3 separate regions of the Homo sapiens genome follow, and regions 1 and 3 are each linked to region 2. Evidence: fine-mapped expression QTL. A gene starts in region 2. Each other region holds a variant in brackets. All regions are shown on one strand. Distances are from middle to middle.

Region 1 (6,703 bases), 47 kb after region 2:
ATGACCCAGGATAACTGGATTAAAACTCCAAGCCTTATGTAGGGTTCTGTTCCATACACGGAATACATGAAGCCATAATGAGGAAGCATTGAGGCAATCCGCACGATGAAGAATACTACTGTCATGAGTATTCCATTGATAACGATAGCTTTAGAAAACTTGGGATACTTCAGAGCTTCAAAGAACCACCTGAAAAATGAATTAAAGAAACATCACATTTATAGTGCATCTCTGAGGATTAACCATTTTTATTTTAGTTTTTAAATTTTAAAATTCAGTGAAGGAGGAGCAAAGGGCCTAGAATAGCATACGCAATGCTGAAAAAGAACAAAGTTGGAGGACTCACACTACCCATTTCCAAGACTTAACTATAAAGCGACAGTAATCAAGTCAGCATGGTGTTAGTGAAAGATCAATAAACCAATGGAAGAGAAAAGAGAGCTCAGAAATAGACCCACACAAATATACTCAACTGATTTGTGACAAAAGCATAAAGGTAATTCAGTGGAGAAAAAAAGTCTTTTCAACAAGGTGTGCAAAATTGTATATCAACATCGAGAAAAATGAAGTTAAGCAGAGATCTCACACCTTACACAAAAATTAACTCAAAATGGATCATAGACCTAAATGTAAAATGCAAAACTATAAAACTTCCATAAGAAAAAAGGAAAAAAACCTGTATGATCTTGCATCTGGTGGTGCTATTTTAGATACAACACCAAAAGTGTCATCCATGGAAGAAAAAGTTAGTTAAGTTGGACTTCGTTAAAATTAAAACTTGCTCTGCGAAAGACACTGTTAAAGAAAAGACAACCACACACTAGGAAAAAATATTTAAAATATACATGTATGGTAAAGTACATGTATACAAAGTACACAAAGAATTCTTAAAAGTCAACAATAAGAAAACAACCCAATTAAAACACTGGTAAAAGAGCATAACAAAAACCTCATCAGAAAATATATATAGATGAAAACTAAGCATATAAAAAGATGTTCACTATTGTCATTAGGAAGTGCAAATTGCAGTGGCTCACGCCTGTAATCCCAGCACTTTGGGAGGCTGAGGCAGGTGGATCACCTGAGGTCAGGGGTTTGAAACCAGCCTGGCCAGCCAGGCGCAGTGGCTCACCCCTGTAATCCCAGCACTTTGGGAGGCTGAGGAGCGTGGATCATCAGGTCAGGAGTTCAAGACCAGCCTGGCCAAGATAGTGAAACCCCGTCTCTACTAAAAATACAAAAATTAGCCAGGCATGGCGGCGGGCACCTGTAATCCCAGCTACTCAGAGGCTGAGGCAGAGAATTGCTTGAACCCAGGAGGCAGAGGTTGCAATGAGCCGAGATCACACCACCACACTCCAGCCTGGGCGACAGAGCAAGATTCCATCTCAAAAAAGAAAAGAAAAGAAAAGAAAAGAAACCAATGTGGCCAAAATGGCGAAACCCCATCTCTACTAAAAATACAAAATTATCTGGGTGTGGTGGCGCATTCTTGTAATCCCAGCTACTTGGGAGGCTGAGGCAGGAGAATCTCTTGAACCTGGGAGGCAGAGGTTGCAGTGAGCCGAAATCGTGCTATTGCACTCCAGCCTAGGCAACAAGAGTGAGACTCTGTCTCAAAAAAAAAGAAAAAAAAAAAAAAGAAAGTGCAAATTTTAGCAACAAGATACTATGCACACCTATTAAAATAGCTAAAATCCCAAAAAATGGACAATAACAATTGCTGGCAAGGGTGTGGAACAAGAGGAACACACATTCATTGCTGCTAGGAATGCAAAATGGTACAACCACTTTAGAAGACAGTTTAGCAGGCATAAAACTAAACATATTCATAGCACACAAACCAGCAATCACATTCCTAGGTATTTTTCCAACTGATTAAAAAATGTATGTCCACACAAAAGCTGCATACGTGTTTACACCAGCTTTATTCATAACTGCCAACAACTACAAGCCATCAAGATGGACAAACATTGTAGTACATCCATACATTGGAATACTACTTAGCAATAAAAATAAACTATCAATGTAACAGCAAGAATGAATCTAAAGTGCTAAGTAAATGAAATCAGTCTGAAAATCCTGTACACTGTATGATTCCATTTATAGACATTCTAGAAAAAGCAAAAGTATCAAGACAGAAAACAGAATAGTGGTTACCAGAGTTTCGGAAAGAGTGGAAGGGGATTGAGTAGGTAAAACAAGGGATATTTTAGGGTGGTGAAACTGTTCTGCATAATACTATAGTGGTGGATACATGACATTATGCACTTATCAAAACCCACAGAAGTGCACAAAAAGTGAACCTGATGTATGCAAAATTTTAAACAATCAATTAGGAGGTTGGGGGATACCAGGATGCAATGCAAACAGTGACAAAAGAATCTTAACTGTTACAAATGCATGATATAACATCCCTGAAAGGAGTAAGGTAGAAAGAGGTGCTGACCTAAGTGACTTCAAAGATGGAGACTATAAGACAAAGGCAAAAGAAACTGTATACAGGCAATGTACTCTAGTTCACGCAAAAACAATTAACAATTCTGAAACCATTATACATGTATATCAGGACTGAACAAATAAATGGATTTGTTTGATGAAAAATAGTGGGAACCAGGTTTCTCATTGTTGGATAGAAAGGTTTCAGACAAGCAAGAGGCGGCTAGATTTTTTCCATGAGATACTGGATTAGATTTGGAAACAGTGAACTATTTTAGCTTGATATAGCTATAAATGCATACATACAGAAATAATTATAGATAGGTGTATACACACAGGTCAGCATATTTCCAGGTTCTGTCAGCTAGGAGCCCATAGAAACAATGATGCCTCAGTAACAATGAGCATACATGGCATCCAC[G/A]TGTTGGCTTCTAATACCACTCTCCAATGAAAGAAACTAGGGTTCCTTGAGAAATACCTGATTTGAGGGCTGGGAACAGAGAATACACAATATACAATATGAACCTGTTAGAGTATCATTTAGGGCCAGAGAGCAAGAAAGTGCTCAAAAAACAAAATGACGTTTCTTTATGTCAAAGGAACACAGAAACCAACCAAATGAGCTCTCCAGGTCCAAAACTCACAATGTGAGCAACAAAATAAATAATGTTGTATTGGATTATAACCTAAAGTATAAAATAAATATCCAGAAATCAATACTGATATAAATGAATGAATGAATGAATAGGGGAGAAGAAACAAATCTGTTCCGAATAACTGCAAATAATTTATGTAGAAATCACACCTTCAACAAGGTAAAGCATAAACCCCTAGTCCTCAAGTGTGGGCTGTGTATAGTGTAATGTATTGAACTGTTTCCCACTAAATTCTTTTTTTTTTTTTTTTTTTTCTGAGACGGAGTCTCGCTCTGTCGCCCAGGCTGGAGTACAGTGGCGCGATCTTGGCTCACTGCAAGCTCCGCCTCCCGGGATCACGCCATTCTCCTGCCTCAGCCTCCCGAGTAGCTGGGACTACAGGCGCCCGCCACCATGCCCGGCTAATTTTTTGTATTTTGTAGTAGAGACGGGGTTTCACCGTGTTAGCCAGGATGGTCTTGATCTCCTGACCTTGTGATCCACCCGCCTCGGCCTCCCAAAGTGCTGGGATTACAGGCGTGAGCTACCGCGCCCGGCTAAATTCTTATGTTGAAGCCCTAAAGCCCCAAAGTGACTGTATTTCAAGATAGGTCCTTTAAGAAGGCAATTAAGGTTAAATAAAGTAACAAGGGTCAGGCTCCAATCCAATAGGACCAGTGCCCTTAAAAGAAAGGAGAGACCAAAGTTCTCCCTCTTCCTCCATGCACACACGGAGAAGAGGCCATGTGAGGACACAGAGAGAAGTTGCCTCCTGCAAGAAGAGGAGAGGCGCCTCACCAAGAACCAACCCTGCAGGCACCTTGGTCTTGGACATCCGGCTTCCAGCACTGTGCAAAAACACATTTCTGTTATTTAAGCCACCCAGACTGTGGCATTTTTTATGGCAGTCCCCAACAAACTAATACACACAGTGACTTCCTTCCAAAGTGTACAGTATGGAAGGGGCAGGGGGAGGGCAGGTGTAAGGAATAACTTTAAAATGGAGAAACCGGACAAACAGTACCTCAGGTGAACAAGCTTAACATCAACAATGATTAAGTCATGTTCACAGCATGCAGTCCTAATATGTGTGATGAGAATGATACTGTCCCTCGGTGGTCTTCCTCCCCAAACCCCATATCCCCAGTGTAATCATGAGAAAAACATCAGACAAACCCAAATTGAGGGACAGTCTACAAAACACCTGATCAGTACTCCTCAAAACCGTCAAGGTCACCAGAGACAGGACATCTGAGAAACGATCACAGCCAACAGTAGCCTAAGCAGACATGAAACTAAATGTAGTGTGGCATTCTGGAAGGGATCCTGAGACAGAAAAGGGGCACTGGGCAAAAACGAAAGAAATCCACACAAAGTATGGACTTTAGTTAACAATAAGATATTAACACTGGCTCGCTAATTGTTAACAACTGCACCCACTGATCTATGACGCTAACAATAGGGGAAGCTGGGTGTGGGGTACACAGGGACCCTCTGTATCAGCCTTCTGATTTTTCTGTAAATGTAAAACTATTCTAAAGATAAAAAGGTTTTTAAAAAGTCAGTGAACATTCGCTCTATTCCACTTTTTCTTCCTTAAAAAAACTGCCTTGCCTAATTTTACATCATTTTAGAGATCAAATTGCAAAGGCAGTAAAACATATCTGTGTATCTTAATATTCAATTTAACTGAATTAGTCATGATTAAGCTAAAATTGTTCAACATAAGAAACTAAAAATTAATAGTTAAAAAGCTTGAAAATATTTTATTGAGTGATTAAAATATCAAATAATTTATATAGGATGAGAGATGTATTACATTTTATAAGTTTATGTAGGATAAAAGGGCTAAATTATCTAAGACAATTAAGAAAGACTATTTAGATAGCAATGGCTAAATTAATGAAATAATACTGCAAATAGGAAAAACATCACTAAAGCAATGACATCCACATTCTAATCCAGGTCTCTGATCCTCAAGCCTTCTCTTCTCCAAAGACTTCCCTTCTCCTTCAGCCATTCATTTCTTTGACTACATGGCAGCCTTGGAATTACTCAAGAAATATTATACCTCAGTGAACCCATTCCTCTCTAATCATAAGCCTTCCATATTTCTCTTTACCCAATCTCACCTAAACTACTTCTTTGACCTTCAAATCCTCAAATCTCTCTCTATCAGCCTCCACGCTTTCACTTCCTTTCCTACCTAATCCAAACTCCAAGTTAACTTCAGAACACACATCAGCACCCTCCGTTCTCTTGCCACTTCATCTATCTCACCCACTCTGCTGATCTCCAGTGTTTCATCAAGCCAGCTTTCCTTAGGCAATACAGAATGACGTGAAGAGTAGCTAGGGTGCTCTGCAGTCAGGCCGCCTGGGTTGAAAGCCTGGTTCTGCCATGGAGCAACTGTGTGGTCTTAGCTCTCTCTGCTATTCACCTCTATGTTTGTTCTATCTCTATAAATGGGGATAAATGATAGTACCTCCTTTGTACTATGAAGCTGCCATGACACAGAGTAACAACTCCCCCATACTGTAAATTCAATAAATATCATTACCCACCAATCTTTATTAAGATAAATGGCACAAATATAATTTTAAAAGATTTGAACTTCAGCAGAATTCTCAAACTGGCTCGACAGTCCTTTCATTTCACTCCATAGTTCCCATATAATTGCTTCCAAACCTGTCCTGCCATTCAAGTCAATTCCCTTCCTCATTCACTTTTGTCTCTCAATCCCATCAGAGCATCTGGTTTCTTACTGATATACAGTTAATTCTTGAGCAACACCAGGGTTAGGGGTGCTGACTCCCCACACAGTTGAAAATTGCTTGACTTCTGACTTGCCCAAACACCTGATTGTTGACCAGAAGCCTTACCAATAACATAAAGTCAATTAACATTATTTTATGTTATTTGCATTATATACTATATTCTTATAATAAAGCTAGAGAAAAACGTTATTTTCTAGAGAAAAGAAAATCATAAAGAAAAGAAAATATATGTACTATTAAGTGAAAGTGGATCTTTGTAAAGGTCTTCATTCTCGTCGTCTTCACGTTAACTAGCCTTGAGTAAGAGAAGGAGTTGGACTTGCTGTCGCAAAGGTGGCAGAGGTGGAAGAGGTGACGAAGTTGGAAGGAAAGGCAGGCACACTTAGTGCAAATTTTATTGAAAAAAATAGATGTGTCAGTGGACTCATACAGTTCAAACCCATGTTGTTCGGGAGTCAACTGCATTAGAGTCCATCAACCATGAATTCCTTCCACTCTGACCCCAAGATCTCAAAACTTCTTCTCAGGCACCTTTACCTTTCAACTCAGAGGAGAGTCCTCATCTTCTAGGATTTATTCAATAAACTACCCTGCCTTCCCTTGTTCTACCAAGTTCCCCTTCTATAAATTGATTCTTCTTTTACCAACGTGCTCAATTCCTGCTAATCCAAAAACCTCCCCTCCACTGCTTCTCTTCTTTGCCAGTTTTTTGAAAGGAGAGTCAGACATATTCACAGACATTCTTACTACACTCCCAAACCCAAGACGATATGACTGCAACTCTACAAAAGAAATTAGTCAGTTACATATGTGCACATGTACCCTAAAACTTAAAGTATAATTTAAAAAAAA
Region 2 (6,703 bases):
CATAAGTTTCAATGTAGCTTCAGAAGAAAAAAAAAAAAACTAAAAATAAATGAAGCTAAAAGTAGCAATCTCATCGGTTTTATAGAAGTCAGCTCAATACTGACAATCAGCATAAAACCGAGCTGAGCAGATTTAGAGGGGTCAATGTGTGACAGTCATGATTCATTTTATAAGAAGGCCCAAACTAATTTGAACATTAGTGTTGCTAAAATACAAAAATTCACTCTGCAGCTTCTGTGAAAACCTATTACATGATATTGGGTTCTCCCATCTTACAACTTTTTTATCTGTAAGATTCTTTCCAGAAGCACAACTCCCACATATAACGAACATTGACTATGGCCACATAATCTGTGTCACTCAATTTCCTCATCAGGAAAATGGTGATACAATACCAATCTCACGCCTCTCATAGATCCACACATACATGCACAAACACTCCCCTTTGGGATTGTTCTGAACATAAGTTGGCTCACACTCATATCTTTTCTCTGGGTGCTCATTATCGCTCTTTCTGCACAAGTATTTCCTTGCTTTCCAAGAACTATTTTCCTGATGCAACAGCCCCATCTCTCTATTAAGGAGCATGATGCAGTGCAAAGGCCCATACACCTGGAGCCTGGTGGTTATTTAACCAGTCTGAGTATCAGTTATCTTCTCTGTGAAGTAAGACCAATAGTACCCCTCATCAAGTAAGATGCATTTCAAGTATCACGTACATGGCAGGTCACCCCATCAAATCTGGCACCTGGACTGACTACAATGCATACAGAAAAACAGAATATCCCTAATGTGGTCTATCCACAGCCCTCCCTTGTAGATGGGAGTGTAGGGACTTACTTAATTTGCACCCCTAAGAGATGGTTATGCCTCTTACTAGAAGCTTACTATAACCATTGTAAAGAGATCAAAAGGCAGATAAAATCCCCTGAAATTCTCAGCATAAAATTAGTCCAGCTAAATGGAATCCAATTATTTAGCTTCTTCAATCTTACGGCCTTAATAGTTGATCCTTGGGTTAGCAGTCTGAGTCTTGCTGGGTTATCTTGTTACCAGGAATGCAATTCCTCTGCAACATTCTCCTGATTCCAGTGGCAAAAGGGAGAACCTTATTTGGGGGAGGCCAGAAAAGAACTAGTGTTTAGAGTGTTCTGGTATCAAGTGTGTATCCTCCAACCCAAACTGACAGTGATGGTGAGTGGTAGCCAGCAGTCTGCTGCATGTTTACTGTGGTCTGTTAAAGAAGTCCTTACTTTGTAAAAAGATGTTACGAAAATCATGGGAAAAAAAAAAAAGGCCTTTACCTTACCCCCTTAATTCCCACTTGTGAACATCAAACATCCCCATTTCAATCACTGAATTATTCTACCTCTCAGCAACAAAATGTCCTAAGTTGTTACACTGAATTCTTTTATAATTCAATTACTTATTGATGCCAGAACATGGAATTAAACTAATTAGGAGGCATGGCTTGAAAGTCATGCTCAATTTAACAGCAGATAAAGGGTTCACAGTGTTCTCAAGATTAAGAAACTGTTTTCTTTCTATGCTTACATTTTTGGGTTTTCTCTGACCCTTCAGCAGTGTTTTATGCTCAGCTGTGTACTAATGACCCAGACCATTACCAGTTCTTTAAGGTGTGATGGGAAATTGCAGGTTCATTTTTCCAGGATATTCCCAACTGAGCCATAATAAAGGAATTTAGGAAAACTGATGATCTCTTCAAATAGCTGCCTCAGGCAGAAGTAATTATCAATAAAGAGAACAGTGGAGACAGAGAGGGAGATGGTGAAGAATTATCCAATCAGAAGAGGGATGACAAGAAAACACTAAAAGTGAGTAAACCCCTTCATATGGATTTTAAACAATTGTTTCAAAAGATACAAGTCAGGCTGGGCACTAAAAAGAAAGCAACTCCATTACACTAATAGGTGCATAGTGCCTGGAACATAACAGTGCCCAATGAGTGGATGTGAGTGGATGAATGCAAGAAGGAATAAATGGAAGTCAACTCCCTGTCCTTCAGTGAATAACACACCCAATGGATATCATGAAGGATCTTAATCTTAAATGGTTTTCTCACAACATCCAGCCCATTTTTAGACTACTTTTTTTTTTTTTTTCTGAGACAGAGTTTCACTCTTGTTACCCAGGCTGCAGTGCAATGAATGGTGAGATCTTGGCTCACTGCAACCTCCGCCTCCCGGGTTCAAGTGATTCTCCTGCCTCAGCCTCCCGAGTAGCAAGGATCACAGGCGTGTGCCACCATGCCCAGCTAATTTTTGTATTTTTAGTAGAGATGGGGTTTCGCCATGTTGGCCAGGCTGGTCTTGAACTCCTGACCTCAGGTGATCTGCCCGCCTCGGCCTCCCAAAGTGCTGGGATTACAGGCATGAGCCACGCGCCAGGCCTAGACTACCTTCTTAAAGGTTAACCAATTTATGGTCAGAAAGCCAATTTTAATGGTAGCTACAATATAACATTAGAACGATAAATCTCATGCCCCAAACATGTACATAATGTATCTGAAAGCTAAGTGAAAACTGAGTCACTTTCTCATACATGGCAGTGTTTTTTCTTTTTTTTTTATTCAATAGAAGCCACATACAGGGACAGTAAGTTTCACCTATCATCAAAAAATAGTCAAAAGAACCTCTCTACACTGTAAGCTCCTAGAGGCCATGGGTAGCGGTGTCTCTGAAACCCTGACAAAGTCTGTAGGCAGCAGGGATTCAATAAATGTGGGCTAAATGACTAATAAAGCCCTCAAGAGCTTGTTTAAAAAAAAGTATCAGAAGGCCAGGCACCTGTGGCTCACGCCTGTAATCCCAGCACCTTGGGAGGCCGAGACGCGCGGATCACGAGGTCAGGAGATTGAGACCAGCCTGGCCAACATGGTGAAACCCCGTCTCTACTAAAAATACAAAAAATTAGCCAGTCATGGTGGCAGGCGCCTGTAGTGCCAGCTACTCGGGAGGCTGAGGCAGGAGAATGGTGTGAACCCAGGAGGTGGAGCTTGCAGTGAGCCGAGATCGCGCCACTGCACTCCAGCCTGGGGGACAGAACAAGACTCTGTCTCAAAAAAAAAAAAAAAAAAAAAAAAAGGCCGGGCGCAGTGGCTCACGCCTGTAATCCCAGCACTTTCGGAGGCCGAGGCGGGCGGACCACGAGGTCCGGAGATCGAGACCATCCTGGCTAACACGGTGAAACCCTGTCTCTACTAAAAAAAAAAATACAAAAAATTAGCCGGGCGTGGTGGTGGGCGCCTGTAGTCCCAGCTACTCGGGAGGCTGAGGCAGGAGAATGGCGTGAACCCGGGAGGCGGAGGTTGCAGTGACCCGAGATCGCGCCACTGCACTCCAGCCTAGGCGACAAAGCAAGACTCCGTCTTAAAAAATAAAAAATAAATAAAATAAAATAAATAAAATTCAGCCAGGCATGGTGGCACGCGCCTGTGATCCCAGCTACTCGGGAGGCGGAGGCTGCAGTGAGTCCAGATGGATCCACTGCACTCCAGCCAGGGCAACAAGAGAGACTCCACCTAAAAAAAAAAAAGTATCAGAAAAGCAATCAACTTGGAAATAGAATGCAGATAAAGTTGAGGTTGAGCACTGGATAAATGAAAAAGTTCAGTCAACAAACATTTACCTACTACCTACCAGGTGCCTGGAGTCATTACCAAACAGACCCTGCCCTCCTGCAACTTAAGACCTACAAATACCCGTGTAGAGTTAGAACCGGGGAGTGCTCTCGGGGGGGCCTAGGGCATAGTGCTTAGGAAGGACACAGAACAACGAGGGGGCGTCAGCACAGGCTTCTTTATAGGGTGAGATCTGAGGGGTGGGAGGCTGGGGGAGGGCCTGGGGGTGCGCACGCAGGGGCCCCCGGCTCCGGGAGCGGGACCGGCGGCAGAGGCCCCAGTGGGCCGCGCCGCTCTCTTAGTGTTTCTGGGGTCGCCTCACACTCCCGCCCGCTGCGACACCACTCCGGCCTCCGGGCGTGTCATTCCATCATTCAACTAACCCGGTCCCCATACGTGGGCCCAGGCGGGGTGCCCAGGCTCCGTGGTGGGGAGGAGACGCAAAGCGAACGCGGGTGGCCCCTGAGGGCGCCCTGTCCCTCCCGCGCGCGGGTAGTCACCTGAGCGGCTCAGCACCTCCCACTCGTGGGGCCTGCAGAAAATCGCGGCCAGGACCGAGAGCTCCTCCTGCACAGGCTCCGCCATGGCTGTGGGCCCCACCGCCTCAGCGCTTCCCCTTCCGCTGCCGCAGCCGCCGCCTCCACCGGCCAGGAGCAGCACTGCCCGCGGCCACCCGGGGGCGCCCCGCGCCTCCGCAACCGGGCGGGACGGGGGCGGGGCGAGACGGAGCTGGGGCGAAGCGAAACGGGACGTGGGCGAGGCGAGTCCGGGCGAGGGTCAGGGCAGACGGGGCGGGCGGGGCCCTTAGAAGTTCCGCCCAGAAGCTCCTGCTCAGTAACTACAGACGCGAAGCTCAGCCTCTCGGTTTGGGAATTTTCTTGGAGGCCGAGGCCCTGCGCCTCTGTCTGCACCCAAGGCGACCGCCCAGCTTACCCCCGGCTCTTCTGAGCACAGGGAGGCCTCCCAGCAAAGCCTGAACCCTCTAAGTTTAGCTGCAGGCTTCGAACCCCGACCGTCCCCGCCGAGCCTTGGGCTGCTGAGGTGGGGATGAACTGGGCGAAAGACACTTGGGAGTTAGGAAGAAACAAACAAGCAGGGAAGTGACCAGGAGACAAGGTGAGACTTTGCCCGGCTCAGGTCTGAACTGAGTGTTGGAGATAACCACAGTTAACAAAATAAACAAAATTATTCGCCCCCGTGGAGCTGTTAGCAACCCTGGTGCCTGGGAAGCCTGGAAGAGGCTCGGGTTAGTAACAACCTCCAGGATGCCCTCCGAACTGGTACTGGCGCCGGGACTCTAGACAAGGTCCAGATTCCCGGGCCCTTCCCCTTACGGGTGCAAAAAGGGAGGGTCAGGACCTGCCAGTCCTGGCTTCAGGATGTTGACTGGACGGACCTGGACTCATGGGAACTGTGCGCCAAAGTCCTGGGAGCAAAGTGTCATAACGCTCCTCGTTTGTCTCTTGCCTTCACAGGAGACAGCCCTGCTGCAAGCGGCCAGTGGGAATCCTTGGCCTTTGGGGGTATGATCCAAGAATGTAAACGCTAGCTTTTCAGTGTTTTCGATTTCGTGATATTCAATGCATACAATACAATGTGACTCTTGAAGCTTAATAATAAAATTATCATTCTTGAGCCCAGCACCTAAATTTTAAAATGTGAGCAATACCAATAGGGTAACAGAATAAGCAATCCATTCTGTTTTGACTATAGTGAACAAGATTACAAGACTTATCTGCAGTTAGGTCTGTCTCTCGGATGTTTGCCTGGTCTTTTTGCTGTTCAAATAACAGTTTAAAATTTGGCAGTCCCCACAAGCAGCTGGTCTTGCTCATGGAGTTCTCACAACTTTTGTTTGTATGAGAAATCACATTTCATGAGATAAATCTGGGAATTTAGGTTGTTAGGCAGTGACTCCAGTCACTGACCTACGGAAGTCAGAACAAAGTTGGCTGATTTTAAAACCCTGCATCCATTCACCATTACCATTCCCGCTGTTGGTAAAAAAGGAATCTGATAAAGGAAAAGATACTGGCTTCCCGGAACAGAAAGGAAACCTAACAAGATGGACTGCAGGGAAAATGCTTTTCAGAAGATGCCATGGGATTTCAGTGACCCCGAGTAATTAGGAGCACATAATTGGGAAGATGAAGGCTTATTTAAATGCAGTTATCTCTGATATGGCCAATTGGCTTGAAGAAAAAAAAAACTCCTTTATTTCCAAAATAACAGACGTTCCAGCAGTTCAGTAGGTTCATAATTAACTGCTAAAGAGATTGAACAAAAGAATACGTTTTTAATTTAAAATATTACTAAGTTATTTTAATTCGAAATCCAGTGTTACTATGAAAAGTCAAACAATTTGGTTTTTGACTTATTTATTGAAAATAATCTATAAAATAGGCTGGGCGCAGTGGCTCATGCCTGTAAGCCCAGCACTTTGGGAGGCCGAGGCGGGTGGATCACCTGAGGTCAGGAGTTCGGGACCAGCCTGACCAACATGGTGAAATGCTGTCTCTACTAAAAATACAAAATTTAGCTGGGCGTGGTGGCAAGCACCTATCATCCCAGCTACTCAGGAGGCTGAGGCAGGAGAATCGCTTGAACCCGGGAGGCGGAGGTTGCAGTGAGCCGAGATCGCACCTTTGCACCACTCCAGCCTAGGCAACCAAGCGAGACTCCGTCTCAAGAGCAAAAAAAAATCTATAAAATATTCAAATAGTTTTTACTTATTTTTAATTTTCCAAATTCACTATAAGTGAGATGAGTGAAATAACATGAAGAGCAAAATTACAGCTGTAGGAAGGATTAGGAGGCAGTTGCTAAAGCCTGCTGTCAGCAATAGGTCCATGAAAATTGATTAAAGAGTACATCAATCTATGATTTAAAATTTTCTTGTCAATAGGTTTCTTCTTTGCTCTTCCTTTCTCAGTTGATTTCTTAATCTGCTTTTCATACCTCATTTAGCATGTTTAAATAAAAAAGAAGTCAATGTGAATGTCTTTTAAATTGACACTATCCTAAGGCACTGAAGTCCCATGAATAAGTTTCTGCACTCTGACA
Region 3 (6,703 bases), 110 kb before region 2:
GGAAATGCTCAATAATTTTAGGCATTTATCCTAGATGGGAAGCCACAGAAGGGACACTTGTCGAAAAGAAACAAACTACGTGCTGCTCTGAAATAATTGCCAAATTATTTGTTTATTATGAACTTACTGAAAATCATCAAATGATTAATTATCCAAGATATACAGCGGAGCAAAAGAAAGAGATACATAGTGCAGTGTGTCTCTAAACTGGAGAAACTCAAGAGCATCATGGCATATAAGAAACGTAAGTTGATAGAGTTGTCTACCCATGAAAGTGGGGTTGTTATCTGAGTTTTCACCAAGTATTTTAATGCATTGGTGAGTACTTAGTCCAGGGAGAAAGTCCTAGATGACAGACATCCCTGACATATCCAAAGAATAGCTGCACATTTAATCCCTCAGCCTCCTTGCATTACCCATTAACATGCCTGCTCTGCTACACCAGCACAAGGTTCTAAGTCTGTCACACTTGGCTTCTGCTTAAGTCTGTTTGGAGTGATGACAATCAGGGTCCATACTGGCTGGCAATCCCTTCCACACAGCTGCACTAAAGGAAACCTCCAACAGAGTAGGAGTGTTATTAGAGGCGAACCAGCCCTCAGTTTGCTCTTTTGTTAGGTCCCAATTAGGCACAGGCAAGAGTCAATTATGATGGTGTGGGGAAGAGAAATATTTCAGGTAAGAACTCCAAATTACATATAACCTCCACTGAGGCAAGCTGACCTTCTAGGAACAGTGTTGCTGTGCTGGTACCTCAGCCACGCAGACTGTCAACTAGCCAGTCCTTCCTATGCACAAACCTATGCATCTGATGACCATTTCTCAGTAAACAAGTGTACTGATGACCATTTCTCAGTAAACAAGTGTATTATTGAAAATGGAGAACTGGGTTGAGGTGAAATGAGAAAGGGGGAGTCATCCCCATCAGCCTGCTATGTTTCCATCACTGGTATTGGCTGTTCTGTTCCATCCTAAAGGGGAACTGCTCTCTTCTGCATCATCATGTCATTTTTATTATGCCAGCAAATGATAAGGCAAAAACCCATCATCACAGACCAGCCTGTGAAAAACTAACTAACAATATGAAGTTGAAAATGAAGAAGAAAGTCTTGCATTTCCTTTCACCTGTAGGGGAAAAAAATGAAGCCCAAGGCAAGCTCCTCACCATTCAGCAGTCCATCTTACTTTAAAATATACGCATGCAGACTGAACAGGAAGATTTCTGCTATGCACGGCAATTGTTCCATTTTCTATATTTCATAACCTGCAATTTTGAAGCCATGCTTGGTACACACGCTTGTAAAATAGTCATATCAGATAAAAGCAGAGGGATGCTAAACTATTGGAAAATAAATCAAATTCTCAGCAAGCCGTTATATCCATCATGTTGCAGCAAGCGCACGTATAGTTTAAGCTGTGCGCGCACAGTCTATCCATTGTAATGATTTGGGGTCAGGATCCTGCCACAAGCATTTAGCATTCACTAAGAAGTAAACCCAGGAGTGTAGCAGGGAAAAGTGCCGAGCTGTAGCTTTTGGTCCTGGAAGTTGCCCTCGATGTATTTGTTTGAGTATAGCCATTGTATCTAAATAGCAAGGCAGAGAAGAATTAACACATGCATAGAACGTGACTATTTACAAGGAGCTTGCATGAGCATTATCTCACTTGATCCCCAAAAGAAACTCAGAAGATGAATGGAGAAAAGCACTCGCATGTTACAGTAGCACAAAGACATTTGGAAACATCTGTGAAATGTTGAGTAAAAAATCTGAAAACCCATCCACACCCACCCCCATTCAAAACTAGGGTGGGAGTGTTAGAGTGATGTTTCAGCAGTGTCTTGTCCTAGAACCAACATATTCACATTTGACCATAACAAATATTCCATGTCTTTGATTTTTTTTCTCTTAACACAAACATAAGACTAGTTTATTAGACAATTGCACAAGATTTTGTGAAGCCTTATGTAAGCACCAAATATGAAAATTATTCAGAGAGAGAAATCAGAACTTATAAGTATCATTAAGCAAAAGAACTACACATTACACTGTACACTAATATGGATTATTAAAAATATTTCAAAATGTTCAATGTAAAAAAGTAGAAAAATTTAAAAACCACGGATTTTACTTAAAAAAAACATAAAGCTTCAAATTCCATGTCTGAATGTCACAGAAAAGCCAGTTTGTTCACAAGGCTACGTAGTAAGTCTTAACCACATCAATATAGCACTCTCCCAGAAATGAATGTCCAACAATTAGCCTCCAATTCCCTCAAACCTCCACTTCCTTGCAAGATGAATTCTTCCTGATTCTTCTCTTCCCTGCTTGCCAAGACCCCAAATTTGATCATCCAAAGCATTTTCTTTCCCCTGCTTTCCACTCCATAGTATTTGTCCTTCCCCTTTACCATTAATTGAAAACTCAACCCTGGAACCATGCTGTAAACCATGCATTTCACCTCTGGAGAGGATCACAGGATTCCATAATCTGGCCCCTGTATTAATCAGCTTGACTGCTACAACAAAATATCATACACTGGGTAGTTTAAACAGCCGACATGTATTTCTCACAGTTCTAGAGGCTGGAAGTCCAAGATTGAGGTGCCAGCATGACTGGGCTCCTGGCAAGGGCTATCTTTCTGCCTTGCAGATGACTGCCTTCTACCTGTGTCCTCATGGCCACAGAGAGGAAGCTCTGGTGTCTCTTTCTTTTCTTACAAGGGCACTAATCCCATCATGGGGAAATCCACCCTTGTGACCCTATCTAAACCTAATTGTTTCCCCAAGGCCCCATATCCAAACACCATCACACTGTGGGTAGAGCTTCAACATATGAGCCTTGAGAGGACAGAAGTCAGTCCTTAGCAGCCCCATTTCCAATTCCTGATGTCATCCTCTAAATGGCCTTCAATGCTCTGCAGCAGTTCTTCTACTAATTCCTGTCTTATACTCACTCTCCCAAATTTATATATGAAACCAAAGAATTGCCCTGGCCGTAGCTGAGGTTATATAAATACAATGTTACTAATACACTTGTATGAAAGAATAGAACATCAAAACTCAATGTATTGAAGAGCCCACACAACAAACTTTTCATGATTCTGAAAATCCCTTCAGGGGCTCTCCTAAAGTTCCAAAAATTCTCCTATAATTAAAATTGGTTTTCCCCAAACCTAGCATTTAATATAAATAAATATTGACTTCCTTGTCTGTTTTTACAATTTTGTTCTTGTTTGCTATTTTAGCAACTGTTTTTCTGTCTACCTTACAATATAAATGTAAAATATTTCAGGTACATTATGGATGAAAAAAATTGTTTAGAAATATAACCATATTCATAGTATTTCTTTGGATAAGTGCTTTCTGAGTTTCAAACGAGCAAGTTTTGAAATAAACATAAGAAATAAATAATCTGTAAGTTGGGGACTATTCTATAGGAAGCATCATATTTTCCCACATAATATTTAAGATTTGAGGCAATATAATTAAATTTAGAAAATATTTTCAAATTTCATAAGGGGAAGGGAAATATATACAAGGATTAGATGATAACAAATACTAATGTGTAATTACTGATTCTTTATGAAAGTGGAAACTTCGCTGTAATATCAAGCTTCCAAATATGAATTGAAGAATGAACCTGTTCAACTTATTAGAAAAGTTGACACTAGCTCAAAACAACTTTTTAAAAAGTGTGTTATAAGAACAAACTACTAATATTTCTGTAGCATTTTGAACCACGAAAGGCAATCAATCAAAAGGAGAAGTATAACAAACACGCCAGAAAGATCTAGAGATCATGTTCCCTTAAAGCATAGATGTGATCTGGTGGAAAACTTCCAGTTATCAATCTGAAACTGTATGACAATTCCAACAAATTTTACTGTCTTGTAGACCTCCTCTTGCCCAGAGCTAGCCAAGATAAGCCATGGG[C/T]TCACCTGTCACATTAACCTTAAGAGACACGTCAGGTCCTGCTGAAGAGGATATTCAAATCAATCCACTATTGATTCCTACACCCTGCTCCTTCCAACCCACTGTCAAGTTCTAAGAAACTACTAGAAGATCCAAAGTCATCTTGGGAGGGAGTGCCCTCAGCACTGGTTAACAAGTGATACCTGATCACCATTCACCTAGTCTTTTATTTCTACAAATTTCAACTCCAGTCCTTAGAAAGAAGCAGAACCAGGGGATGAGCACCATGAACTGAGTTGTTCTGAATCCTGAAAAATTTTCATTATCCATTTTGAAATCATTTTGCCCCAAACCTCAGGTACATATCAAACTAGGAGACTGAACTGAGAAGGAGACAAATTGAAAGAAAAGGTCTGAGACGCATGGCAGGCAAGAGATGTTTGGACCCTTTCAGCTGCTCCATCCCTTGAAAGCTTTGGCCCCACTGGGCTAGCAGCACTCTTACCTTCCTGGAGAAAAGTGCTTCTGATCCATTATTTTAGAGAATAAGAATATCACTTGTCATTTCCCTTTTTAAAAAGTTATTTATAAGTTAGTAAATTAATAAGTAGTTTATATAGCAACTTTAGTCAAATGGGTTTCACATCATATAACAAGTCTTTGAATTTTAGAATTTGAGAATTTTTGAATATGTCTTCTTTGCGATTATTGTAGTCAAATGTAAAATATTTTCCCTACACACTGAAAAATATGTCATGTAAATTATGTTAAATGCTTATGGTAAATATCTGCACTGGAAGGAAAAATCTGTTCTCAAAGAAATTAGGGCCTGAAACTTCATACAGATTCAATAAATACATGCCAAATGAATAAAGTGATAGTGTATATTAATTTGTGCTAAACCTAATGCTACATCTATACATATTTTCTCTTTATGATATGATTTTGCTGTGTCCCCACTCAAAGTGTCATCTTGGATTTTAATCCCCATAATCCCCACGTGTCAAGAGAGAGACCAGGTGGAGGTAATTGAATCATAAAGACGGTTTCCCCCATGTTGTTCTCATGATAGTGAGTAAGTTCTCACGAGTGGTTTTATACGTGTTTGGTAGTTCCTCCTGCTTTCCTTCTCCTTCCTGCTGCCTTGTGAATAAGGGGCTTTGCTTCTCTTTTGCCTTCCGCCATGATTGTAAATTTCCTGAGGCTTCCCCAGCCATGCTGAACTGTGAGTCAGTTAAACCTCTTTCCTTTATAAATTACCCACTCTTGGGCAGCTCTTTATAGCGTATGAAAACGGACTAATACAAATCATTTGGGTGCTGTTCTTATTTTATGAATGAGGAAAGAGTTATTTGTCCAAGGTTACAAAGCTGATCAATGATGTCACAAAAACTCAAGAAGAAACTATATGTAGTTGGGATGTCAACACAAGACCAATGTCCAGGAACATAGGTTCTAGCTCTGGCCAGGCCACCAGTTTTCTATAATCTTGAATATGATTCTTGATTTTTCTTATCCTCACTTTCTTTATCTAAGGTTCTCTTCCAGTTCTAAAATTCTCTAATTCTATAAATTTATGCCATCTTGCACCTGCATTTCAGTTAAAGATCCTTTCAGACAAGTAGCTGGATGAAATCCTCCCAGATGTGGTGTAAAACCACACAGTTCTTCTATCGTGCAACACTCTCGTATTAGTCATGCCTTGAGTGCACTACCTCGATTTTCTAATCCATGCAAGTGCTTAATTTGTTGTATGTAATTTGTTCTCTTTCAAGTTAATATCCCTGTATTATAAAAATCAATAAACACACATTGAAAATAATTACAAAGATATAAACCTCTTACTTTGCAAAAATACGTTGTAATGCACACATTTTTCTACTCAGCAACATTTACTACGTGTTAAAAATGATGCTCTGTGCAATCTTAGGCAGGAGAAAATGTTTCCTAGAGAAATTTCAAACATCTACATGAAAAGAAGAGAATACGCATAATCAACATAACGATCTCAAGAATGGAATCAACAGAAATAAAATCACCTCCTTTAGTTCTTCTGGGAAAATAGGTAGCTAAAGATAAAATCAATGATAGCAAGAGGGGTGGCTTTGTTAGCCAGCATCAACTAACTGCTGTTCAGTGGGTGCATTTGTTTATGGCATTATTACTAAAGCAATGCAGGATCAATAAAATTGTTTGAGGGCCTTGAATTTCTTACTCTATATAACTACTGATGCCAACCCAGGGTGGACTAGTAAGGTGGGCAGTTTGGCAAAACAGGCCCATTTAACTGGAGCTTTTCTCACAGGCTCTGACCACTGCCTCTAAGGAGACCTTAAAGTAAGACCCCAGGGGATTCAGGCATCCACATTACAAATTGTACTTCATGAGACACTCATTGAGGTCAATTAACTGTGAGAAATATTGCATATCTATCCTTTTCTGAATATGTACAAAGCAGATGAGCTTATTAAAGTCTTTAAGAAGTCCTTTGTAAAGATACATGCTTAAATTTGTTTATATCACATTCTCCGAATCCATTGCCCGTAGGACCCCTCTTATCCAATATCTATTAACACCTGACAAAGTATTCCAGGGAACATGTTCTCTTTAGCCACTGCTAGGGCTACTGATTTCATAACATGAAGACTGAACAAGAGAAAGGAGAAAAGGGACTACCATTCATGGATCACTTACAAGGGGCCTCACTTTGCTCTCAGGGTTTTGAATGCACAATTTCATATAATCCTCACAATAATCCTGTGAAATAATATCATATTATCTTCATTTGAC

What was found.
Region 1: its variant is fine-mapped to the expression of RWDD3 in whole blood (TOPMed, PIP 0.97).
Region 3: its variant is fine-mapped to the expression of RWDD3 in vagina (GTEx, PIP 0.96).

Annotation. Positions count from the first base shown.
Region 1 is chr1:95,185,036-95,191,738 of GRCh38, reverse strand. It overlaps TLCD4 (TLC domain containing 4), which reads right to left. Exons shown (of 7, transcript NM_152487.3): 7 at 1-189. All of the region lies in intron 6 of TLCD4-RWDD3 (TLCD4-RWDD3 readthrough), which reads right to left. All of the region lies in intron 3 of RWDD3-DT (RWDD3 divergent transcript), which reads left to right. Among named protein-coding and RNA genes, the nearest start is that of RWDD3-DT, 46 kb to the left of the region's middle. The variant G/A (reference allele first, on the strand shown) is at 2,861.
Region 2 is chr1:95,231,753-95,238,455 of GRCh38, reverse strand. RWDD3 (RWD domain containing 3) reads right to left here and starts at 4,246. Exons shown (of 4, transcript NM_015485.5): 1 at 4,141-4,246. The coding sequence starts at 4,225. The region is part of intron 7 of TLCD4-RWDD3 (TLCD4-RWDD3 readthrough); the gene reads right to left. RWDD3-DT (RWDD3 divergent transcript) reads left to right here and starts at 4,474. Exons shown (of 4, transcript NR_125949.1): 1 at 4,474-4,756. RefSeq lists silencers at 3,786-3,965, 4,176-4,505.
Region 3 is chr1:95,340,652-95,347,354 of GRCh38, reverse strand. No RefSeq gene overlaps it. Among named protein-coding and RNA genes, the nearest start is that of LINC01650, 8.1 kb to the left of the region's middle. The variant C/T (reference allele first, on the strand shown) is at 3,935.